5 separate regions of the Homo sapiens genome follow, and regions 1, 2, 3 and 5 are each linked to region 4. The links come from fine-mapping of genetic effects on gene expression. A gene starts in region 4. Each other region holds a variant in brackets. All regions are shown on one strand. Distances are between the middles of the regions.

Region 1 (5,000 bases), 25 kb after region 4:
TTAAGGGCCTGAAGATGGGAATGAATTTGGGACATGTGAGGAAGAGAAAAAGTGCAGTGTGGCAAGGGTGGGAGGGAACACAAGATTGTGAAGGATGGACAGGGACAGTTGAGGGATCTTACAGGCCCCGATTAGAAGGTAGAATAAGGCCAGGCTTGGTGGCTCACACCTGTAATCCAGCACTTTGGGAGGCGAGGCGGGCAGTTCGCTTGAGGCCAGGAGCTGGAGACCAGCCTGGCCAACAAGGGGAAACCCCATCTCTATTAAAAATACAAAAATTAGCCAGAAATTTCTGGTGGTGCGTGTCTCTAATCCCAGCTACTCGGGAAGCTGAGGCATGAAAATTACTTGAACCCAGGAGGCAGAGGCTGCAGTGAGCCGAGATATGCCACTGTACTCCAGCCTGGGCAACAGAGTGAGGCTCTGTCTAAAAAAAAAAAAAAAATGTAGAATAAAACTCAGGGTTTGCTGGGCAGCTGGGAAGGGCCTTGTCCCTGAGCTGGAGTGATGGGGACAGGTAGATCAACTGTGCAGCCATCCTGGAGAAGCAGAGACCGTGGGGGCTGGGGGCCGGGGGAGGGGGGTCCCTTCCCCAGGGAGACTGGCCCCTGGAAGTTGCAAGCCCTTAAAGGAAGGTGGCTAGTGGCACCAGGGGAGTGAGTGGTGGCCAGGCATCGGTGGCAAGGTACCAGGAGGGGACAGGATTCCCCAGAAATGTCCAAGAGTTTGCTGATGGCTGCCTTCTTGCCGCATCCCCACAGGGTGGAGAGAACACTGGCGTCTCCTCTTAGGAGGACCCCAATTCTTGTGTATCAGGGCCCTGCCCTTGTACTCTCACCTAACATTAACTACTTCCTTATTCCACACACCACATTGGGGTAGCGCTTCAACACAGGAATTTCAAGGGACACACTTCAGTCCATGGCAGTATGTATGTTGATTTTTGTTGCGTTTCTTTGTTTCTTCCTGTTTTTTCTGGGAGATAATATAATCACATCTGAAATGTTGGATTATTAAAGGTATTTGTTGCATTGGAGAGGTCGAGGCTTGGAGATGGGCTCTTTTCGCTCTGGGGATGGGGGGCAGTGCACTCGATTGTTGGGGGAGCGAGTCCAAGCTCACCCCCGGTCTCCCCCACAGTCCAGGGGAGACTTGGAGAGGCTTTGGAACGGCGTGTGCCAGCTGAGTCTGACGAGTCTGACGATGTCCTGTGCCTCTGCTGATTGAACTTTGTCATCTTTGGTCCCTCTTGGTGACTTGGAGCCTACTGTTTTCAGGTCCTTAGTAGTCAGATCTTGTTATCCATAGTGTAGTCCCTTTTCTTGGGACCTTAAAAGATAGAATGTGTTCATGCGTCTAAAGCAATGTCATGTCATAAGAGGTAGACAGTGGAGCGACCGAGGCTCAGAAAGAGGCTGGTGTTTTATCCACAGGTGTAGTAAGTATCATTCAAACAAGAGTCTCAGTGCTAGGAGCAGTGTTTCCCTTTGCCTTCCACTGGTCCTTACAGTTTTTCAGGTTGTTTGTCTCTTCAAGTCACAGCTGGCGCCCCTCATTCCCTGAAGAGCCCGTCCTGGTCTCTTCCTCCTCTTGGAGATATACATAGAAACTACACCTTTCCCAGGACTGTGTTATCTGAGAATGCTTTGCCAGCCATAGATATATTTAAATCCTTTTCTTTCTTTTTTCCATTAAATGGTGGTAGGTATTTTCTTTTTAGAAATGGGAAGGAGTTTAAATCCATCTGAGGAAAAATAAGATGCAGATTGTGACTTGAATTTGAGACTTTCTAAATCTACTTTTTTTTCTGGTAGGATTCACTACAACATTTTCTATTGCCTATATCTTCAGGAGAATTCCTGCACTCAGGCCACAAAAGTTAAAGAGGAGCCATCTGTCTGGCCAGGGTATGTGTATATGTGCGTCAGCGTGTGTTTTGTCTTCTGTCGACTCTTCCTCATACTTAAGGAGGGAGATGTTTTGCTTCACTTTAGCAACATCATTGAGGTTAATAATGTAAATTGTGTAAAACTCACCCATCCTAAGAGTGTGATTCAGTGACATTGCCTGAGCTGTGCATCAGCATCATAATCTAGCTTTAGAACATGTTTATTCTCGTAAGGGGAGGCCTTTTTTTTGGTCAGCTTTTGTTTATCCAGTTTGTATGTTTGGTTTTTGGACTGTCTATCCCCTGGACTTTTCACGTCTTTCTGTTTTTCTTACTTCTCTTTTGTAATGATTATAGCAAGAAAACCATCCAACTTACACATGAACAACAGCTGATTCTGAATCACAAGATGGAACCTCTCCAGGTGGTGAAAATTATGGCCTTTGCCGGTAAGGGAGCCCACATCAGGTTCACGAGGTGGTGGTTTTCTGCCTTTTCTCCCTACATCCCCTTCCCGCTACCTGCCAGGGCATCTTTGCTCTGATCTGTCATCCAACTAATAATTCAATAACAGATCAAATAATCAATCTC[A/G]AAAGCAATTGGCCAAGGAATACTTACTTCCCCGGACCACTCCATGAACATCCACAGAATTCCTGTTGAGACAGGTAGTTCACAGCAGTTAGTTGGTCGGGCAGATGCCCCCGGGATTGAGCCCAGCATTGTGATGTTTGCTCAGGCACTGATTGCTTCTGGAGAGGGAGGGCATGTTAATCCCCAGCCCAGGGTTTCAGGAGCTCCCCAGTTTTATAGGGTGATGTCTAGAGGGCCTGCCTTAGATTGGCTTTTAACTTACATTCATAAATATATTATCTACAAGTGTCCTGCCTCAGTCAGCCACGCCGATCCACTCACAGCCTCCTGAAGTACTTGGTTACTCTTTCATCACAGCCTTTGCTCGTGCTATTTGCTATTTTTTTTCTGCCTGTAATCCCTTCCTGCTCCTTTTGTGGCTAAATACCCTGCTAACAACAACAACAACATTTTGAATGCCTGCAGTGTGCTTGGCATTGTGCTGATCCTGATAGCATTCCGTAAGGTTGCTTAGTTATTCTTGTTTTATAGAGGAAGAAACTGAAGCACAGAGAGCCTTGCCCGGGGTTGAATAAGTGGATAGGTGGTGGAGGTGGAATTCAAAGCTGGACCTGTCTCTCTCCAGAGACATGCCTTCCCCCTCCCTAACCCTACCCTCCTATCCTGAGGGGTCCTTTTTGCCCTCGGGAACCCTACCTCTAATGGATACCCACTTATTTCTGAGAAGCAAACTGAAGCTCATGAGGTCAAGGGGTCCACCTGTCCTTTGCCCCTCGGCTGGAGCCTGCCCCAGCTGAGATCCCAGCCCACCTTCACCTGGCTTTGAATCTGCTGCTCTTTTGGTGGCACTACTTTTACCAGCACTGAAAAACTTGTTACTGTCCTGCTCTCAAGACAGAGGTGTGATAAGCCTGGACAAGGCCTGATTGGGGATCCCTGGGCATGTCTTGTCTGGTCAGAGGGTCACCTCCTTTCCTCCTGGCTTCCCCAGGCACTGGGAAGACCTCAACGCTGGTCAAGTATGCAGAGAAGTGGTCTCAGAGCAGGTTTCTGTATGTGACATTCAACAAGAGCATCGCAAAGCAGGCCGAACGCGTCTTCCCCAGCAACGTCATCTGCAAAACCTTCCACTCCATGGCCTACGGGCACATAGGGCGGAAGTGAGTACTGCTGTCACTAGTGGCACTGTTGCTGCTGGCACGGTCGCGTCTTACTGTTTTCCCGTGACGATCACATGTGAGCTTACACCACAGTGACCCCGAGGAGTGTAGTGCTGTTATCTCCACTTACAGGCAGGAAACAAATACATAGGTTTAGCCATTTGTACTTTTATCCTGTAGCAACATATTGTTTACATATAATGCCGTCTTGCCAAGAGGGGTGTTCTCATGGAAGTGAGGCACAGAAAGTCAAAATGACTTGCTTAAAGTTCAGAGTCTCACAAATCCTGATCAGTTGTAGGCTTTTCTTGGAAGGGAGTGAGGAAGACTCAGCCGAGGCACACTTGACCCAGGTCTCCTGGATGTAGAGGCATCAGGGAACTCCAAGGGTCCCTCCGGGGACCTTCTGGAGCCCAGCTTCATGGTGGAATAGCAGTGTCTGCCGAAAGCTGGTTCCTATTCTGGGTTGGTACATGTGAGTCCTGAAAGCCATTTCCAGTCAGACATGGACCATGCAGAACTTTTTCGCTTTAAAACATTAACACTCGCCTGTGTGTGGCACTTGAAGCTACCTCCTGGTGACATTAGAGAGAATGGAGGGGACGTTCAATAGCACCAAGCCAGGAGAGCCACGTGCTGTTCATTTGGGATGGGTATTGCAGGTACCAGTCAAAGAAGAAGTTGAATCTCTTCAAGTTAACACCCTTCATGGTCAACTCCGTCCTTGCTGAAGGGAAGGGTGGATTCATAAGAGCCAAGCTTGTGTGTAAGACTCTAGAAAACTTCTTTGCCTCGGCTGACGAAGAGCTGACCATTGATCACGTGCCTATTTGGTGTAAGAACAGCCAAGGACAGAGAGTCATGGTTGAGCAGAGTGAAAAACTGGTGAGTGTCTAAGTGTCTGAAGTGTTAGGGATCTGAGGATGGGGGAACAGGGGAAGTGTTAGGGATCTGAGGATGGGGAAACAGGGGAAGTGTTAGGGGTCTGAGGATGGGGAAACAGGGGAAGTGTTAGGGGTCTGAGGATGGGGAAACGGGAAGTGTTAGGGATCTGAGGATGGGGAAATGGGAAGTGTTAGGGGTCTGAGGATGGGGGATCAGGGGAAGTGTTAGGGATCTGAGGATGGGGGAACGGGAAGTGTTAGGGATCTGAGGATGGGCAAACAGGGAGTGTGGGACAGCATTATTTCTTCTTTCATTTCTTCAGACCTGGTCATAGGAGGTTGAAGGTGGGAGGGTGAGGCTGTAGGCCCATGGTGATGGCTGTGAATTGTTGGGTATTTTCTCCTGTGAAGGACACTGGTGACCATCTCACTTAAGCCTCGGAATAGTCCTCCCATTTAACAGAGAAGGCAGACATG
Region 2 (5,000 bases), 200 kb before region 4:
CTGTCACTACTAAAATACAAAAAATTAGCCGGGCATGATGGTGCATGCCTGTAGTCCCAGCTTCTTGGGAGGCTGAGGTGGGGGAATCGCTTGAACCTGGGAGGCAGAGATTGCAGCGAGCCGAGATCACGCCACTGCACTCCAGCCTGACGACAGAGTGAGACTCCGTCTCAAAAAAAAAAAAAAAGAAAGTTATATGATCTTGAATATAAAAAGTATGGTCTCTAAAGAATTTGTTGTTGTTTTTACATAATGTAGGAGGAAAAAAATTGTGGTGTTTATAAGCATCAGCCTGATTACCAAAAATACTTTTTGTGGTAGACTGGATTTTGAGAATGTTAAAACAATCTTCAAAAATTGAATATTAAATCCAAAAATAAGCAAGCCACAGCTAAATGAAAAAGTCATAGTACATAGGTGTAATACACTTTACTCAAGGGGTGTAATTCCAAAAAAAAAGTTTTTAAAAAAGGTAATTTGTCTCCTACTGGATATACTAAATACCTTAGTGAATTTTTTATTTTGAATAGCTCTTTGTTAATCTACATAATTGTTTATGAATTTAACTTGCTTTATAAGTTCAAATTATCCTATATGCTATACAACACACTAATGGTAATGATGAATAAGATCTACTAATTAGGCTTTCTTCTGGGCAATGCATGTGGGTATCTTAGATTGCTTAGTTAAAACATAATGAGTAAAGATGTCCTTAGATCAGGCCAAACACTTCATCTTCCCCCTGCACCTCCGTTTGATTAAATTTTTCGTAAATTTTGTTAGGGCTGCATGGCTTATTGGGAAGGGACCTCATCCCTACCCCAGGCATTGGTATCAATTTTCCTGAAGCTATGTGAAGTATTAAAAAACCATATTCAGGCCTGGCATGTTGGCTCACGCCTGTAATCTGAGCATTTAGAGAGACAGAGGCGGGCTGATCAGTTGAGGTCAGGAGTTTGAGACCAGCCAGGTTAACACGGTGAAACGCCTTTACTAAAAATACAAAAATTAGCTAGGCGTGGCGGCCCATACCTGTAATTCCAGCTACTCAGAAGGCTGAGGCAGGGGAATCGCTTGAAACCAGGAGGCAGAGGTTGCAGTGAGCCCAGATTGTGCCACTGCACTCTGTCTCAAAAAAAAAAAAAAAGCCATATTCATTATGACTTTTTAATTTTGTGACATGTATAAATACATTTTTTATTATCTACATAGTAAATTTAAAAAGCTGCATCAAACTGTAGCCGGTGAGGCTGCATAAATGATGTGGGACGAAGAGTTATAATAACTTGAGATCACTGTAGTGAAAAGAACGTGTATTTTAGATTAGACCTGAGATTGATAGATATCCTTACTAGGGGCTTGCGGGTAGGACACTTAAGGAAATTGGAGCTTGGAGTGAGCTTTGTAAAATAATACTAAAACCATCCTCCTAGTGGGGTTACTGTGTGACGTCCAAGAACTCGGGGGCAGTTGGCTTGCTGTCCTGTGCTCCGTTCTGACGACTGAGCCCGCCCAGGTCTGCAGGGTCCTGGGGTCCTGCGGGTTCTGTAGGGTTCCCTGGTGTGTGGAGTCCCTACCCGCTACAAGCTCCGTTGGGTCTACGGAGTGTGCGGGGATCTCCCAGCCCTGTTGGCTGTACGGGCTCAGTGGGGTTTGCAGGGATCCCCTCGTTCTGTGGGGTCCGTGGGCGCCGAGTCAGGGCCATGCCCCTGGGCTCCGCTCGCGGAGCCGGCGTCGCCCTTGTTGACTTTCAAAAGGCGCCGCCGGCCCCGCGCCCTACACGCTCAGCACGCCCTGCGCGGAGTTCCCCGCTCTGGCGCACTGGCCTTGGCTGGCGGGAGGGGGCCGGAGGGGCTGCCGGCGGAGCAGAGACACAGCCACCCTCCCCAACACACCATGAGGTGAGTCGGGGAGGGGCCTAGGTCTCCCACATGCTGTTGTGGGAAGCTCTGACCCCCGCTGTGCCTGGGGCGGGCTCACCCACGGAGGTGACTGTTAATACAGCGCTGAGTGCGAAGGAGACCCGAGAAAATGGGCCTATTCTGTCTAGTAACGTTTTACCTTCTGGTGAGGGTGTGGGGAGAGAAGCTTTGGCAGGGTCAGTGAGGCCCCGCAGCAGAGCCCTGGTGATGAAAGACACTTTTGTATGGTACCCGAAGGCTTAACTTCACTCCTGATTGTGAGTGGATTGTGTGTGGTAGTGGTGGAGCCCTTGCAGAACCGCCAGAGAGACGGTGCTAGTTGTGTGTGTGCCTATGTAAACCTACAATAGCTAAGGTCATCTTTTGAAATGTAGAACAGGGATTGCACATTGACTTTGCGCTTCAAGTATTTGCAGGTTATTACCTTAGTTTTTACTCCCTTTGTGCGTGCCGTGATTATCTTGGTTTAAACTCGTATGTGGCAAGAAATTTTTTAATGAATGTTTAAGTTTCTGTGAAAATTGTGTATTTCTCAAATTGTATTTTTTGGCTTTTAATAGGGTCACTTTGTTTTCTGGGTCTCTGTTTTGACTTACGGGAAATGCTATTTGTTTTCTCTACATTTTCTTCATTTAAAAAAAACCTGTAACTTCAGGAGTTCAAGACCAACCTGGGCAACCTCATCCCTGGAGGAGGGGGGAACCCCCACAAAACCACAACTATAACTGGCTGCTACTTAGGACTACAGGAGATCTTTTTTCCAAAGTGGAAATAGCTTTATTTCACCCAGATTATGTTTATTTAAAATTTCAGATAATATATAAAGCTGTAAAAAGTAAAGCAAAAACTACCTGTACTTGTCCCATCCAAAGATAACTTCATAGAATATTTGATTATCTACTGTGGTGCTAGGA[G/A]CTCTGTTGGACCCTGGGGACTTTGGTGAACAGACAATGCCTGCCTCTATAAACCTTACATTCTGCTGGGGAAAATAGACCTCTCCCAACCCACCAAAAAGTAAATTTATAATAATTCCATGTTCTAATGCTTTAAAGAAAACACTTGCAGCAGGGTAATCCGAGGTTTATCTGAGTGGATGACTTAAATAGATGTCACTAAAGGAACAGAAAGAGCTCAACCATGGGAGGAATGGGGAGAAAAAAAAAAGAATTCTGGTCAGAAATAACAGCATGCACAAAGGCCTTAAAAGAGGAAAAAGCTATAAAAAGAAAAATCCATGTAGCTGCCACTCAGTAGTAAGTCAGGGAAAAGTAGAGCAAGATGAGGTATAGGAAATTGGCAGGGACCAAATTTTACTTGTCCATGGCCAGGAGGGTGTGTTTTGTGTTCTGAGGGCAGTGAGAGGGTACTGAGGGGCTTTAATTAGAAATAAAGTGATCTGGAAAACTAATTGATTAATTTGTTAAGTAAATATTTATTGAAACCCTACTGTATAACAGGCACTGTTCTGAGCACTGGCATACAACAATGAAAAGGACAAAGCCCTGTATTCATGAAACTAATCTAGTGGTTGGAGGACAATCAGATAAACAAGAAAAAATACCAGATATTGATAAGTGTGCAGAAGATGACCATTGTTTAAATTGTGGTTTATATTCTTTAAGATATGGTATATTACACATATACTTCTTTTGGAACTTTCTCCTGAATAATTTATGGTAGGACATTTTTCACTGTTACTAAATAGTTTTCTTTGGGGGCATCTTAATTTGTTTTTGGATTAAGTATGGTAAAAAATAGCATGCATAAATGAAGAAATACTGTGCAGCAACAAAAATTTGCATGTTACAAAGCATCTGGTGAACGTTATATAGTAACTTCCTTTTGACAGTCTGACATGTGGCTCTCCTACCCCCATCCCAGACCCCAGCTGCCCCTTTGTGGTTTTTTATTTTGACCTATTAGTATGGTTAAATTTATGGATTTACTATTTATTGAACCATTTTTGCATCTTGGAATGAGCCCTAATTGATCTGTTATTATTTTAATGTCCTGATGGATTTACTTTGCCAATGCATATATTTAGGATTTTTATATCAATATTCATAAGAGATCAGTCTATAGTTGTTGTTTTTTAATGTGTTTTGTCTAGTTTTGGTATTCGCATCTGATTGCTTTGTAAAAACAATTGAGAAGTTTCATTTCTTTTTCTGAGTTTCGGAACAGATTAAATAGCCAAGTATTATTTATTCTTCAGTTACCAAATTCATATTTACTAAACACTATGTGCTAGGAATTGGACTGGATGCTGAGTAATCAGTAGTAAACAAAACAGATATGGTTCCTGCCGTGATATTGCTTGGCTCATTAAGGAAAATGACATTAATGAAGAAACTACACATATGTAATTATAAATCATGCAAGAAAAGGACAGGATGCTTTGAGATAATATCATTGAAGATCTTTAGATTGTGCTTTTTATGCATTTGAGTAAATGACTATTGAGTACATACATATACACTAACAGCTAATTATTTAAATTAGTATGTATTGATTTGGTGTGTAATTAGGGCTGTGGTGGGTGCATTAGTAAAATGAGGTCTTCATAATTACACAAAATATAAAATAATGGCAATAGTAGCTACCATTGTAGGAGGTAGCTGCATCATTTTTTAATGGTAGAAATTAAGACAGGTTAAGTAGACACTTTTAGTCTAACATGTTCAATTGTATACACTCTTTGGAAGTCTCTCTTAAGATTATAGTAAAAGAATAAGGATATAAATCCACAAAGATCAAGAGGAGGTGAGAGGAAGATATAGCTGAAATCAGTATTTGGGAAACTAGAAAGGAGATGGGCAAGTAATAAATGATTTCATGAATTAGAGAATGCTGAAAGCTGAAGAGAGGTAACCCAGCAAGGAGCAAGCAGATTCTTTCCACAGAATCTGGAAAAGTTTTAGGAATTGGGGGTATCAAGTACAGGACTTCTGAAGTCAAGAATTACAGGATGGGGTGGGAATAGAAGGGTTGGTTGATGGTCTTTATCATTTTGATACCCTGGAACCCCTTCTCCACTCCCACACACCCAGACAACTACTCTCTCCTCTACCTTGACGG
Region 3 (5,000 bases), 29 kb before region 4:
TTCAAGGGACAGGACGAGCCACAAGCTGGATTTTGTTCCTACGTCTTTTGCGTTCATTTACCTTTTAGCTAATCGTGGATTTTCAGCAACACTGGGAAAAATAAAGACCATGCATGTTGTAGGCTGGCACAGGTGGAAGCTCTAGAACTCTGAGAGCTGCTTTAAAGGTACCACATACTGTAATCTAAATAGAAACACCCTATCATATCCAAGGAATCTGTGCCATCCCACTCCCAGCATTGTAGTGAGTGCCTGTGTATGCCTGTATCTACTCACAAGAGCTCTTTTTTTTTAAAGGAGCTATAAAGGAGATTATTTCTGCTGTGCTGTAGTCTGTTTTTTTTTTTACTTGTAAATGTATAACCCAAATTTTGTCATTATTTGAAATTATGTGTAGAGCTAATTTACCCAATATAAAAATGACTCTTACAAATCAACAAGACAAAACAATGGTCAAAAGATGAAGCAAGAACTGGTTTCATTAATGGCCCCAATCAATGGCCTCTGTGTCCAGTCTGTGGGTTCTGCCCCCTACACTAATTCTGGGCATGACCATGCCTTGCTTTGGCCAATGGGATGGAAGCATCTACACAAACAGAGCGGAGACTGGAAAGCACATTTAAGTCTCTTTTCTCTCTTGAATCTCTGCCACTGTCATGAAAAATAAGCCTGGGCTAGCCGAATGGAGAGACCATGGGGAGCAGAGCCAGCTTGATCCACCCAAGGCCATCCTATACCAGCTCAGCAACTCACTGGCTGACGGGACGCAGGAGTGAGCCCAGTTGCGAGCAGCAAAGCCACCCAGATGCCCTACAGACTCCTGTTTCAACCCAGTGAGCTTTGGGGTGGTCTGTCATTTAGTAACAGCTAACTGATACAGGTAAAAATAGGAAAAAGGGCTATAATGGCCAAAAAAACAAATCTAAAGATCTTCAATCTGATTGAGAAATGCCAAGGCCGGGTGTGGTGGCTTATGCCTGTAATCCCAACACTTTTGGAGGCCAAGGTGAAAGGACTGCTTAAGGCCAGGAGTTCGAGACCAGCCTGGCCAACACAGTGAGACCCCCCTATAAAAGTGGAATCTCTACATAAATTTTAAAAATTAGCTGGGCGAGCTGGTGCGTGCTTGTGGTCCCAGCTGCTCAGGAGGCTGAGAAGGGAGGATTGCTTGAGCCTAGGAGGTCGAGGTTGCTTGAGCCTAGGAGGTCAAGGCTGCAGTGAGCTATGGTCACACCACTGCACTCCAGTCTGGGCAACAGAACAGGACCCTGTCTTTAAAAAAAAAAAAAAAAAGAAATGCAAAATTAAAATCATGAGATAGTACATCATGTTAGTGGCCATTAAAAGTGTGATACCGTGGCCAGGCGCAGTGGCTCACGCCTGTAATCCCAGCACTTTGGGAGGCCGAGGCTGGTGGATCACCTGAGGTCAGGAGTTTGAGACCAGCCTGGCCAACATGGTGAAACCCCATCTCTACTAAAATACAAAAATTAGCTGGAAGTGGTGGTGTGCGCCTATAATCCTAGCTACTTGGGAGGCTGAGGCAGGAGAATCGCTTGAACCCAGGTGATGGAGGTTGCAGTGAGCTGAGATTGTGCCACTGCACTCCAGCCTGGGCGAGAGTGAGACGCCGTCTCAAAAAAAAAAAAAAAGTGCGATACCACACAGCTTTGGTGATGGGTATGCCTGGGAAGGAATCTTGGCAAAAGCGATGTCTGTGGTGCTCAAGACCCATCCCAGCCTCCTGGGCATGTGAGCCCCACACTGCAGACACAGGGAAGTTACCAGCTACATGCCCCAGGCTCCCCTAGGTCCAGATTTTGAGATGTGAGTTGGATTCTGCTAATTGCTTGAGTTTCGGAAAGCAGAAGCGAAAGCCGTATTTCTGCTTCCACTGGCAAAGGCTGCAAGTGATTTTCTGTGGAGTGTTTTCTGATCATTTGGCCTCTCGACTGTAGCAGATGAAGACAGCAAGCTTCTGGAGTTGGAAGCGAAGGCAGCAGCTTCCTATACTGGCAAAGATTTTCCTGATTGAAAAGGCACTTCTTTTTGAGGCCTAGGTCTGAAGTACAGCCCTTGATATCGTCCCTGAAAGTTCAACGAGATTTGTTCTCGAGCCTTCCTGACAATTCTGCATACCATCAGGACCCCGTAACAAATCTTCTGCATAAGCTGGCTCCAATGAACGCTAGTCTCTGCTAACTGAACTGTAGCTGATACAGTTGGCAACCTAAAAAAATGGACAGATCCTTTGATCCGCTTCTAGGAATTTATCTTCCAGTCATTCCCATAAGGACACAAAGATGTGTCCGGCACTGCTGTTTATAATAACTTAAACAACCCCAGAATGTCCTAAAATGTCCAGAAAT[A/C]GGGAACAGCTTAGACAAATTGTGGCACATCTGAAAGATGGAATGTCAGAAAGAATGCAACATTATGCAAAGTTAAAAAGAATGAGGTAGATCTTTAAGAACTAATGAGAAAATGAAAATAACAAAACAAAAAGAACTAATGAGAAACAATGCACTCAGTTTAAAGTTGCAAGAGTGTTATATGATCCTATTTGGAATAATCTTTATTTGTACTGTCTGAATTATTTTTCCCCAGAAGCAAATATTTTAGAATATAAACTCATTAAAAATGAAATAAAGCGCATGAGTGTTACATCATATATAACCTTATTCAAATCCATGGGTAATTCCTTGAAGGCATACCATGTGCAGGAGCTGTGTGCAGCCTTCTGGGGTTTGTAAGGTGCGTAAGATACAGTAACTGACCCAGGCGGGGTGCGGTGGCTCACGCCTGTAATCCCAGCACTTTGGGAGGCTGAGACGGTTGGATCACCTGAGGTCAGGAGTTTGAGACCAGCCTGGCCAACATGATGAAACCCTGTCTCTACTAAAAATACAAAAATTAGCCGCGCACGGTGGTGGGAGCCTGTAATCCCAGCTACTTGGGAGGCTGAGGCAGAAAAATCACTTGAACCCAGGGGGCGGAGGTTGCAGTGAGCCGAGATCGTACCACTGCACTCCAGCCTGGGCGGCAGAGTGACTCTGACTCATAAAAAGAAATAGTAACTGACCTCCAGGGATGCATGACTCAGTGGCCTTGACTACCACTTATATAAATAGTTCTAACATAAGGCGAACCATGGGATAATTGCTACAAAGTGCAAAGCAGGAACAGGGGCGGAGAAATTAATTCTTGTGAACCTGGAAGACATCTGACGACTCTGCTGGGTGTGGATGAAGAGATTATGCCAAGAGCTAATTTTTATTAAATGCTTTTTCTATTCCTGGGTTCTTTGAGAATCATTGACATTTATTATTTACTACACATCAGACACGGTGTTAAGTGGCTTAGATGAAATGTCTTTTTTTTTTTTGGTTATCAGATAACCCTTTGTGAAAATATTTTCCTTTGCATTCTTTAACTAGCTGGGCATTCCACAGCTTCACTGTTGGTATCATCTGTGATACTATCAACATGGCAGCTCACAGACTGGGCAGGCCCCAGGAATTCTTTTTTTTTTTTTTTTTTTTTGGAGACGGAGTCTTGCTCTGTTGCCCAGGCTGGAGTGCAGTGGCGCATATTCGGCTCACTGCAAGCTCTGCCTCCAGGGTTCACAGCATTCTCCTGCCTCAGCCTCCTGAGTAGCTGGGACTACAGGCGCCCACCACCATGCCTGGCTAATTTTTTTGTATTTTTAGTAAGAGACGGGGTTTCACCACGTTAGCCAGGATGGTCTCGATCTCCTGACCTCATGATCCTCCCGCCTCGGCCTCCCAAAGTGCTGGGATTACAGGCATGAGCCACCGCAACCGGCCCCCAGGAATTCTTTAATGGTTCCAGAGAGTTCTCTGGCTAAAGACTGCTGCTGCATCTGTTAGGCAATGTTGACAATCTCATCAGAAGTGGTGCTACCACTGTGTTTCATGTTTTTGTGTTTCTTTCTTTCTGTCGGTGGTTCCTGAGGGTTGTGACGATCAGGGCAGAGGCAGAAGGCACCACCTCAATCTGGGCCTGTCTGCTGTGGCTGGTCAGTTTCACTATCATCCTCAGACTCTTCCAGTCAATGGTTGGTGATGTCATCAGCAACCATTTTTGGAGACAGACCCAGGGAGCTGACCTTGGGGGCCAGTGCAGATGTGGCACTGACTTCACCACTGGTACACCTCAGATATACAACTTTGATCTCGCTGGGGTCAAACGTAGGTGGCTGCGGTTGGTTGAACTCAGGTTCAGGATGACTGAAGCAAGTTGCACTTGGCTTTCTCTGAGCCGAAAAACGAAAGGTGCTCAGGCTCCCAGCAACTCTGTGAAGAAAGAGTTATTATCATCTCAGTTTACAGATGAAACAGAAGCTCAGAGAGGGCAAGCAGCTAGCACAAGGTCCCACAGCTGGACTCAGGGCTGCTGGCTACAGGGCCTGGCTCTACATGCTGCACAGTCAGAGAGGGAGAGTCCCATGCGCAGTTGGAAGGGAGAAGGGAAGGGGAGGCTGGCGCTAGATAGTAACAAGCTGTGTGTTTTGGGCATTTCCCCTGTACCAGACACTGTGCTAAATGACCCTTCTGCTCTGTTTGCCTGGAAAAGTCCCCATCTTAGTGAATTCTGACTTTCCACCTACTGTCCCGGAGCAGCTGACTGTGGTGGAGAAAACTGCAGGACAGGGACCCTCAGCTGCTGCTATACAGCCAGTGATCCTGCCACGTCCCTGACTCCATGGGCTTTCAACACGAGGCCTCCCCAACGCAGTGTCCACACCAGCATTACTGTGGAACTTGGGAGACATGCAGATCCCACAGGAGAGGGAAGGGGGAGCTGCTCTCAATTCAGATCAAGTTTCCCCTGTGCCAGAAGAATCAGTCCTCCAGATGGGTGGGCAGCACTGGGCCTGAGGTGAATGTTACTGTGCTGTACGCTCACAAAGTTAGAGGGCAGAGCTCATATTAAAGGTTCATACTGAGAGGTGAAGCCAGCTGGACTTCCTGGGTCAAATG
Region 4 (5,000 bases):
ACAGCATGCTAGCCAAGTTATGTTAACTTTAGAAATTGATTATATGCCAAAAGGCCCCTAGATGCTTTTTTTTTTTTTTTGAGATGGAGTTTTGCTCTTGTTGCCCAGGCTGTAGTGTAATGTAGTGCAATCTTGGCTTAGTACAACCTCTGCCTCCTGGGTTCAAGCCATTCTCCTGCCTCAGACTCTGGAGCTCCCCAGTAGCTGGGATTACAAGCAGCCGCCACCACGCCCGGCTAATTTTTTGTATTTTTAGTAGAGACGGCGTTTCACCATGTTGGCCAGGCTGGTCTTGAACGCCTGACCTCAGGTGATCCACCCGCCTCCGGCCTCCCAAAGTGCTGGGATTACAGGCGTGAGCCACTGCACCCGCGCCCCCGCCCCCACCCCCTCCCCCCCAGATGTTCTTATTCTCTGCCTTCTGTTTTCCAAAATCCTCCTTTCCCCTGAAGGTGACCTGAACAAGATGCGGTTGGGCAGTGCTGGGTGAAGCAGCCACATGTGTGTACTGCTCACCTGCAGAGCTGTAGGCTGTACCTGCAGTATGCAGAGGAGTCCTTCTAATTTTGCTCTCTGTCTTCCAGGCACCTGGGCAAACAGTGAGCAGGTACTGGAGGATCAGAGGGTCGCCTTCTCGACTGGCAATGTGGAAACTGTTCCAGCCATCTTTGTTCTTCAGGAGTGGATTGGCGCCATGTTCCACCAGCTCCTGGATCACCCCCAGGTTCTTCCTTGTGCAGGCCATCATCAGAGGAGTCCTAAGGCCAACCAGGAGAAGCTGTCAGATGGAGGCAGCTGAGACATTAGAAGCCAGGGGCCAGGTCTTCAAAACACACACATCCTTGGCACAGATGGAAAACCTAGAGGATTCAGGGGTCTGGCAGGCAGGAAAACAGCTTTGACCGGCAACCTCTGTGCCTTCTGTGAGGACCCTGGGAGAAATAATAAGGGGAAAATGATTGTAACGAACGTGTACCTAGAGGAGAGGGTGCCTGGGAGACAAAGCAGCTTATAAGCTAGTTCACAGGATAGCAGTGAATTGGAGCAGAGCTAAGAAAACCCACAGACAACCCTCAACACATAACGAAGTCTATTCCCCTGCCCCAGTGGGGAAGATGTACTTCCCTATGTTCCTAAAGATGTTCACGCCCTCTAACGAACCTGACCTAGTGAGTACTAAAATCAGTGTCAATCTAACAAACGAAATGCAATTGGCTTGTGTGATGGTGGAGCAGAGTATCTCTGACTGTGGTGGTTATGCAAGGCTGCACGTATGTGATACAACTGCACTGTGCTCTACACACACGAGCGCGTGTATAACTCAGGAATTCTGGATATTGATTGGAGCAATGCCACTTGAAACAATGCATTGGTGCAGAAGTAACTTAGCTAAATGTCCCCAGAACATCGCATCCGGAGGCTATCTGTATAGTGCACACACTTCATTGTTTGGTAACATTCTCTTTGGTTATATTCTACACTATTCCGTGCTCTAGAAAGGGAGGTGACTGCCCCGACCAGTTAACCCACAAGGGCAGGAACGAGGGACTCTGCAGGTCATCTGCGTTATAAGGGAAAGTTGGGCAGGAGGTCCCTGCCGCTGAGCAGGCCTGGGGTGAGAACTAGGAGCTGAGAACAGCTACGGTGTCCAAGGGGACGGAGAAGCACAGGGAACTCGCTACGACTCTGCGAGTAGAGGGGAGGCGGGGTGTCTTTCCGCTCCACACCTACCAGTCGGCCTTCTTCAGGCAGTCGACCGCTGCCCCCCGGCCCAGCAGGTAGCGCACGCAGTCTCGGTGGCCCATGGAGGCCGCCTCGTGCAGAGGCCGCTTGTAGTCTCGGTTGGTGGCCTCGATGTCCATGCCCCAGGCCTCGGCCAGATAGGCCAGCACGTCCCGATGCCCGTGGCGCGCGGCGCAGTGCAGGAGGGTATCCCCGGCCGGCCCCGGGCAGCCCCCGGCCGCCTGCAGCTCCTCCTTCAGGGCGCGCAGCCGGCCCTCCTGCACCAGCCTGCAGAGGCGCCGCGGGTCCCCGGGCTGGGCCATCGCCGCGGGTCGGGCCGGGCTGCGCGGGGAGGCGGCGGGCGGGACACCGGCGGCCGGGCAGGGAGAAGCCGAGGGCGAGTGGGACTTTCCGCCTCTTCACGCAACCTGCCCCGCGCGCCCCGAACCCGGCAGAACCGCCCCTCACGCCCCCGGCTTTGTCCCCGGCAGAGCCGCCTCCTCAAACCCCCGGCCTAGTCCGCAGGCGGGCTGCCCCCTCACAGCCCCGGCCTGCCCCGCGTGGGAGAAGCCGCGGTTCCGGGCACGGGGCGGTTTTTCCTCAGGGACGGAGCGGTCCGGGATGAGCACGGAGGGGCCTGGGGATCCGAGAGCGCTGGCGTCCGCCGTCCTGGAGCTGCAGCGGCCCGTACGTGATTCGGGACTGAACACGTAAGGGAGTGGGGCGCGCCGCTACACCGCAAAGCCCCAAAGTGGAGGGTCCGGGAGGGCGCGCACAGCCTCGCCCGGCGCCGTGCAGGGTGGCTCCTGAGGCAGCCAGGCCCAAGCGTGACCTGCCCCGCACGCGTCCTCAGGGCCGCCCCAGCCTCCAGCCCCTGGGGGCCGGCGTTCCTGGGCTCCGCCCCCGTCCCCGCCCCTCGACCGCCGCTGCTCCGCGGGGACTCGGGGAGCTCGAAGGAACTCTGGGAAAGTTTCCCGCTCCGCCCCGGCCCGAGCGGAAGCGCGGATGGGGCGTGGCCCGGTAGCTGTGGCCGCGCCCCCACCGATTGCGCATTTCGATTGGCGTTAGTGGCCGTCCGTCAGCACGCCCCCTCCGGTCTCGCGTCCCGATTGGTCGCGGGGGCCGTCAGTCCGGCTCCGGCGGCGGGCGCTTCCCGGGGCTGCGGCGGGGCGGAGCTCGCGGAGGAAGTCGGCGGGCGTCTCGGGCTCCAGGTCCCGGCCAGAGGAGGAGCTCGCTGCCGGGGGACGCTGGGCTGAGCGGCCGGCGGCGCGGGCCCGGCGGCGGCGGCAGCGGGGTCCGGGTCCGGAGCGCCACAGTGCGTGAGGCCGCAGACGTGGCAGGGAGTGTGGGAGGGGCTCCGCCGTGTGGAAAACTTAACCTCCGGGGTCCTGCGCGGGGGGTCCGGGCCCGGGGTGGGGCAGCGGGGGCCCCGGGGGCGCGAGGCTGGGCTCGGGCAAGCGCGGGCGTGGGGGCTCGGCCGTCCGGGCCGTGGGCAGGTGGAGGGCGCGGCGGGGGTGCGCGGGGGAGGCCAGGGCGCTCACTGAACTCGGTCGGGAGCGGCCCCCGCGCTGCCCCCCGAGGCCAGGAAGGCGCAGCGTGTGGGTCCTCGGGGCTGAAGGGGCAAGCGCGGGGACGTGGCCTCGGCTGCTAGGAGGCCAGGCTTTCCCGTCTACTCTGACGTTTTGACCTTGGGCAAGTCATTTTTCGCTGCCCTCTGCCCCTGTGTCATCGGTAGCTTCTCTGCCCCTCCTCTGAGCATGGGAAGCCTAAGGCGATGTGGGAGGCCTGGCGCTGGTGGAGGGCACGGCGAGAGCTGGGCAGGCTGTGGGTGATGGAAGAGATCAGTAGGTGTTGGGTTCCTTACCCGATCTGATTAGGTGCCAGTCACTTAACCTCTCCATGTTTTCGATTCCTTTAGGGAGTAGAATGGGAGTAGCTCCTATTTGCCAGGCCTAAAAACGAGTGCCGTTTACATTTTTTATTGCAGTCTGTGGTCCGAAGACAACCCTATGAGGCATCAGTAGGGTTTTACAGGTGGGGAAGTGGAGGCCTAACCAAGTCAGTGACTTTCTTACAGAATTACAGGTAATAAAGTCTTCTGGAAGGCAGGATGGTAGCATGTGTTGAGTGTCCGCCAGCGTCTGCCGCTGTGGTAAAATGAGCGGAGATAAATGAAAAGACTTCTGGAATGGGCCCATGAAGATAAGTCCGTTTTACTCATGAGCAGATTGAGTTTGGTTAAGGTAACAGTGATGTGGATAGCCTCTGGAGACAGAACTAGTCCAAGTACCAGCTTTGCTCAGGTTATTGTTCTGTCGTGCCTTGTCACTCCAGCAAAAGAAAAAAAGGAAGGCATAAAAGTTGTTTGAAATGCACAAAAGTGTAGGGCGTGCCAAGCAGTGTTCTGCTGCCGTTGAAGTTAGTGCAAATTGGAAGTTGAGGCATCTGGTAGCTTCATGCTTTTTGCTTTTACCCCTGCCCCTCTCCCAGTTTCAGATGACTATCTTCTCTTGCATTATGTCTCTAGTTTCCCTGTTTTTTAAACATAATTGGGACACACGGGTTCACAGTAGGTTGGAATATATATATATATTTTGAGACAGAGTCTCGCTCTGTTGCTCCGGGTGGAGTGCAGTGGCACGATCTCGGCTCACTGCAACCTCCCCCTCCCGGGTTCAAGCAATTCTCCTGCCTCAGCCTCCCGAGTAGCTGGGATTACAGGCGTGTGCCACCATGCTCGGCTAATTTTTTTGTATTTTTAGTAGAGACGGGGTTTCACCATGTTGGCCAGGCTGGTCTTTAAACTCCTGGCCTCAAGTAATTCACCCAGCTCGGCCTCCCAAATGCTGGGATTACAGGCGTGAGCCACCGTGCCTAGCCAGGTTGGAATATTTGAACCCAGGATAATTGGTTACTTCATTGGTGTTGCACATTCGATTCTGCCTCTTGTGTCTTCTCTATGAACCTTCTTTGCTCTGTATCCCCCTTTGGATAACTAAATGATAATGTATGTGAATCTGTCCCGCAGCTCCTGTGATTTTCTGGGCAAAAGCTTGGTCTAGAGGGGCGGGATCTGAACAGTAAGCTAATGGATGGAGCTGTTTCCTGGGTCTTGCTGTTTTCCGGTTGGGCTGCTCATTTCTTTCGTGCAGACTTTTGGAGGTTGTGGTCTGGCCTTTACAGTCACGTCACATGTAGTCGTCATTGGCACCGACTTGCTCCTTGGCTGCCCTTCCTTTTCCTCCTGTTTTTCATGGGTATGCTGTTGAGCATGCCCA
Region 5 (5,000 bases), 44 kb after region 4:
ACACTTGAATCTTTTCTCATACACTGAAATCTTGGTTCCTAATAGTATTTATTACTTATTGATACTATTCTATGTATTTAAAAATAATATTCAAAATAATGCCAGTATTAATGGAATACTGACTGGACTTGAAGATTTCCTAACAGCTCCATTTCTCCATGAATGATGTATTTATTAGTCAAAATATCATGTTCTGAAGTCACTTAAAGTAAGTCCTTTTTGCTTTTGTGGTTTTATTACCAACTTAATTTGCAGTTAGACATGTAGTTTATTCATAATACCTACAGGGGTTGCTTTGCTTCTTTTTGATTTAATGATCTTTCTTGATGTGTAAGGCCTGTTAATGTTTTCAAAGTCAAAACCTTGCGCCTGGGCACAGTGGCTCACCCCTGTAATCCCAGCACTTTGCGGGGCTGAGGCAGACAGGTCACTTTAAGTCAGGAGTTAGAGATCAGCCTGGCCAACATGGCAAAACCCTGTCTCTACCAAAAAATACAGAAAAATTAGCTAGTCATGGTGGTGCATACCTGTAGCCCCAGCTACTTAGGAGGCTGAGGTGGGAGAATCGCGTGAACCCAGGAGGCGGAGATTGCAGTGAGCTGAGATTGTGCCACTGCACTCCAGCCTGGGTGACAGAGTGAGACCCTGTCTCAAAAGAAAAGATCAAAACTTTGTGATAAGAGAAGTCTCATTACCTCCCTGTTCACTTCAGACTGTTCTCTGCCTCCACCATTGGTAGTTATTTTAAACAATTAGCGATTAATCCTTCAGTATTTCTTTATGCAAGTATTAGCAAATTCGTAGGTATTTTCATATTCTCCTTTTCCACAGAAGGTAGCATTTCAGATACACTGTTGTGTACTTTGCTTTGTCACTTAGAAGCCATGGGAATCACTCTTTTATTTATTTTTTACTCTTTTATTTTTTGCCCTTTTATTCTTTTATTTGTTGTCCTACCCAAATTAGGAAATCCCTCTTTATCAGCTCACAGAGCTCTCTCGCCTCTTGGTCAGCTGCATAGTGTTCTGTGTTGACGCACTGTGATTTATGCCGTTCTCGCTCATGGACGTGGTCACTTCCAGCCTTTTGCTTTCATTAATAATGCTGCATTGCACAATCTTGTGCACAGGTCATTTCTGTTTTTGCCAGTGCATCTTCAGCATGCATTTCTAGAAGTGGAATTGCTGGGTAAAGATAAATGCAAGTGTGACTTTTCTGTTGTTTTGTTTTGTTTTGTTTTTGAGACAAGGCCTGGCTCTGTCACCCAGGCTGGAATATGGCGGCACAATCTTGGCCCACTGCAACCTCCGCCTCCCAGGCTCAAGCCATCCTCCCACCTCAGCCTCCCGAGCAGCTGGGACTACAGGTGTGTGCCACCACACCTGGCTAATTCTGTATTTTTTGTAGAGACGGGGTTTTGTCTGTTTCCCAGGCTGGTCTCAAACTCATGAGCTCAAGTGATCTGCCCTGCCTTAGCCTCCCAAAGTGCTAGGATTACAGGCATGAGCCACTGCACCTGGCCAAGTGTGACTTTTCTAGATGTTGCCAATTTTTTCATGGAGATTGTTATCACTTTAGAGTCCCACCAGTTGTATGCATAAGAGTGAAATAGGCCCGGCGCAGTAGCTCACACCTGTAATCCCAGTACTTTGGGAGGCCTAGGAGGGCGGATCACTTGATGTCAGGAGTTCAAGACCAGCCTGGCTAACATGGTGAAACCCTGTCTCTACTAAAAATACAAAAATTAGCTGGGTGTAGTGGCGTATGCCTGTAATCCCAGCTACTCAGGAGGCTGAGGCAGGAGAATCACTTGAATCCGGGAGGCAGAGGTTGCAGTAGGCTGAAATCGTGCCACTGCACTCCAGTGTGGGCAACAAAGTGAGACTCTGTCTCAAAACAAACAAACAAAAAAGTGAAGTAGACTTTTTAAAGCTGATTGGAAGGTTGTCAGTTGGTTGCTGCATGCATTTTGTTTTCCCCATAGAAGAAAAGAATACAGAATCTAGAGAAATACTTCCCCATTACTGAGACTGGGGTGGGCTGTCTGCCCTCAGGGGTCCTGCGAGGAAGTCCCAGAAAAACTGCCTATTTGTGGGAACAGATTTTTTAAGGCTGTAAGACCTTGTTAGAAGTGGAGGCACTCTGCTGTTTTTTTTTTTTTTTTAAAAAACAGAGTCTCACTCTGTCGCCCAGGCTGGAGGGCAGTGGTGTGATCTTGGCTCACCGCAACCTCGGCCTCCTGGGTTCAAGCTGTTCTCCTGTGTCAGCCTCTCAAGTAGCTGGTAGTACAGGTGTACACCACCATACCTGGCTAATTTTTTTTGGTATTTTTTTTTTGTTAAAGACGAGGTTTCACCATGTTGGCCAGGCTGGTCTCAAACTCCTGACTTGAAGTGATCCACTCGCCTCGGCCTCCCAAAGTGTTGGGATTATAGGCGTGAGCCACCATGTCCAGCCTTTTTTGTTGTTGTTGATCACAGCCTGTGAATAAATTTGGGGATATCCTGTTTCAGAAGTGTCGA[G/A]TCCAGTCTCTGCCCAGGAGGGAAGGCCATGGGGATAATGAAGATCCCGAGTTGGGCAGTAATTCAGAGGCTAGGAAAGCGTGTTAAAAATAGTGGAGCCACGGACGGGGGTGTTTTGGAGATAAAAAGCGAGCCATTGCTTCCTGCGCTGCCTAGAACGATAAGCCCCTTTATCTCCCAAGAGTAGGGCAACCTTCTTTTTCTTTGACCCCTCCCCCTTAGAAAATATAGCTAATAGAATCACCAGAAGCCATTTTGTTCATTTGTTTCTTTAAGTTTTGGGAAAGTGAAGGAAATTATTACATTGTTGAGGTGTTAAGTGACATGAAGTTATGTTTCAAAGACAGGTTTTTTTTTTTGTTTTTTTTTTTTTTTGAGATGGAGTCTCTCTCTGTAGCCCAGGCTGGAGTGCAGTGGTGCCATCTTGCTCGGCTCACCGCAACCTCCACCTCCCGGGCTCAAGCGATTCTCAGGCCTCAGCCTCAGAGTAGCTGGGATTACAGGCGTGTGCTACCATGCCTGGCTAATTTTTGTATTTTTAGTAGAGATGGGGTTTCACCCATATTGACTGGGCTGGTCTCAAACTCCTGACCTCAAGTGATCCGTTTGCCTTGGCCTCCCAAATTGCTGAGATTACAGGCTTGAGCCACTATGTCTGGCCAAAGACAGCTTCTTGGTCTCACAGAATCTTAGATTCTTTTTGTTTATTTGTTTAGATACAGGGTCTTGCTTTGTTGCCCAGGCTGGAGTGCAGTGGCACGATCTCAACTCACTGCAACCTCAGCCTCCCGAGTAGCTGAGACTACAGGTGTGCACCACTATGCCTAGCTAATTTTTGTATTTTTGGTAGAGACAGGGTTTCGCCATGTTGCCCAGGCTGGTCTCGAACTCCTGGGCTCAAGTGATCCTCCCACTTCAGTCTCCCAAAGTGCTGGGACTACAGGTGTGACCCCCACCCCTTAAATTTATATAAATAAAAACAGTTAATCTGGTGGGTTATGAGAGGCTTAAAAAGAGTTAAATGGCATAAAATCTAAAGAAATCAGAGAACACTGCATGTTAGGTTAAGTCATGTTTTGTGAAACTTTTCTTCCATGTGTGTTTCTTACATATGTGCGTATGTATAGCATTATAATGGTAACTGCGTCAAAAACGGCTTGAGAGCCTAGCCCTGGAGAAACTTCTGGAGTGGACAGGGAGTCAGGTACAGGATGTTCATTGCTGCATTGTTGGAAATAGTTTGGAAACAACCGAGTAACCACAGCAAGGGAATGGGTAAATGAAATACAAGAGAGCGCTGTGACTGAGTCCTCTACAGCATTTTAGAAAACCTAGGTGAGGAGGAAGCCAGAAGCGTAACATTCATGTAAATTAGACATCTATAAAAGGAGACCTGTGTCCTTGGACACGTGTAAACGAGAAGCTATTTCACCGTGGGTTGGAGGGACCTCGCCAGGTTCATGGTCTTGGCTGTCTCTCGGGAAGGAAATTGAGATGACAGTCCAAGGGACTTCAGCAAAATCTGTGACTTCAGACAGGATTTCACCTCGTCAGCTGTTAGTACTTGTTGGCCATAACTGGAGTGTTTGCCTGGTGGTTTTCTGTTCTTTTTCATAGCTGGTAGGCAGGCCGTCTAAGAGAAAAGACCAAATAAATCAAAACGTAGGTTACAGATTGTAGAATAAGTAGATCAATAGCTGGTCATAATCCAGAAAATACGAAACCGTCCTTTCCTGGGCAGCAGATGTGTGCGGTCCTGCTAGCATATCAGTCTGTGATGTGGAGCCCCACAGGGCAGCAGCGAAGCTGACAGTGCCCTGTCCTTGTGGTGTTTCCAGCCTGGGAGGTCACTAGTGCTTCCTCTGGGTGCTCCCTGCGTGCCAGGCGTGAGTGCTTTGCATGCATTGAAGGGTTTCTTCTCCTCAGCAGCCACCTGAAGCAGGCACCGTGCCATCTGCATTTATGGATAAAGACACAGGCTTAGCGAGGCTGTCATTTGCTCACTAGCACAGCCAGCAGCACGGGACGGTGGAAATACGCAGGGATGTTTGGGGCAAGTTTTCTTCATGTCCTCTGTGTTGCCTGCCTGGCTTATAATGTGAATACACAATAGTTTTCTGAAGATTGAGCTGGGGATACCTTAGCATAAAATAAAATCCAGAAATATTCTGGAAATGTCATTACAGGCAATAGTTTTGCATGTTTATCTGTTAAATATATATATATTTAAAAAGCAATTGGACTGTCAGTTGGACTGTCGATAGCTTTGGAGGCAGGGAAAAGTTAGAGGAAGTAAGGGAGAACGGGTTAGGCGGGGTTTTTCTCTCTGGGACTTACAGTGCATCTAAAGGGTTCTCACAGAGCCGCCGCTATCAGTGTTTCCAGTAGACCCTAACGGAGGTGTCGCCATGACTCTCTTTCTCGCTCTTTCTTTCTCAGGAGTACTTCTTGCAAGCAGAGCTGACAAGCAACGTCTTA

Which allele goes with the higher level. Positions count from the first base shown, and alleles are read on the strand shown. Sizes are in standard deviations (SD) of each study's normalised expression. Not every link is listed here.
As copies of A replace G in region 5, the expression in lymphoblastoid cells of the gene that starts at base 2,584 in region 4 goes up (large effect, 1.4 SD a copy in GTEx).

What was found.
Region 1: its variant is fine-mapped to the expression of ANKRD16 in whole blood (INTERVAL, PIP 0.98). The same link has a PIP of 0.9 or more in prefrontal cortex.
Region 2: its variant is fine-mapped to the expression of ANKRD16 in prefrontal cortex (BrainSeq, PIP 0.95).
Region 3: its variant is fine-mapped to the expression of ANKRD16 in whole blood (INTERVAL, PIP 0.91).
Region 5: its variant is fine-mapped to the expression of ANKRD16 in lymphoblastoid cells (GTEx, PIP above 0.99).

What each region holds. Positions count from the first base shown.
Region 1 is chr10:5,911,933-5,916,932 of GRCh38, forward strand. FBH1 (F-box DNA helicase 1) reads left to right here. Exons shown (of 21, transcript NM_178150.3): 7 at 1,815-1,907; 8 at 2,246-2,337; 9 at 3,471-3,639; 10 at 4,302-4,524. Among named protein-coding and RNA genes, the nearest start is that of FBH1, 24 kb to the left of the region's middle. RefSeq lists an enhancer at 4,959-5,000. The variant A/G (reference allele first, on the strand shown) is at 2,480.
Region 2 is chr10:5,691,018-5,696,017 of GRCh38, forward strand. The region is part of intron 1 of TASOR2 (transcription activation suppressor family member 2); the gene reads left to right. Among named protein-coding and RNA genes, the nearest start is that of TASOR2, 8.7 kb to the left of the region's middle. RefSeq lists a silencer at 1,647-1,876. The variant G/A (reference allele first, on the strand shown) is at 2,837.
Region 3 is chr10:5,858,379-5,863,378 of GRCh38, forward strand. ANKRD16 (ankyrin repeat domain 16) reads right to left here. Exons shown (of 8, transcript NM_019046.3): 8 at 3,238-4,313. It also overlaps the pseudogene RPL12P28. Among named protein-coding and RNA genes, the nearest start is that of TRV-TAC3-1, 7.1 kb to the left of the region's middle. RefSeq lists enhancers at 4,059-4,108, 4,409-4,478, 4,679-4,808. The variant A/C (reference allele first, on the strand shown) is at 2,370.
Region 4 is chr10:5,887,310-5,892,309 of GRCh38, forward strand. ANKRD16 (ankyrin repeat domain 16) reads right to left here and starts at 2,584. Exons shown (of 8, transcript NM_019046.3): 1 at 1,732-2,584; 2 at 538-758. The coding sequence starts at 2,045. FBH1 (F-box DNA helicase 1) reads left to right here and starts at 2,934. Exons shown (of 21, transcript NM_178150.3): 1 at 2,934-3,037. The coding sequence starts at 3,037. RefSeq lists silencers at 1,867-2,146, 2,157-2,266, 2,407-3,126, 3,317-3,366.
Region 5 is chr10:5,931,495-5,936,494 of GRCh38, forward strand. It overlaps FBH1 (F-box DNA helicase 1), which reads left to right. Exons shown (of 21, transcript NM_178150.3): 20 at 4,962-5,000. Among named protein-coding and RNA genes, the nearest start is that of IL15RA, 44 kb to the right of the region's middle. The variant G/A (reference allele first, on the strand shown) is at 2,523.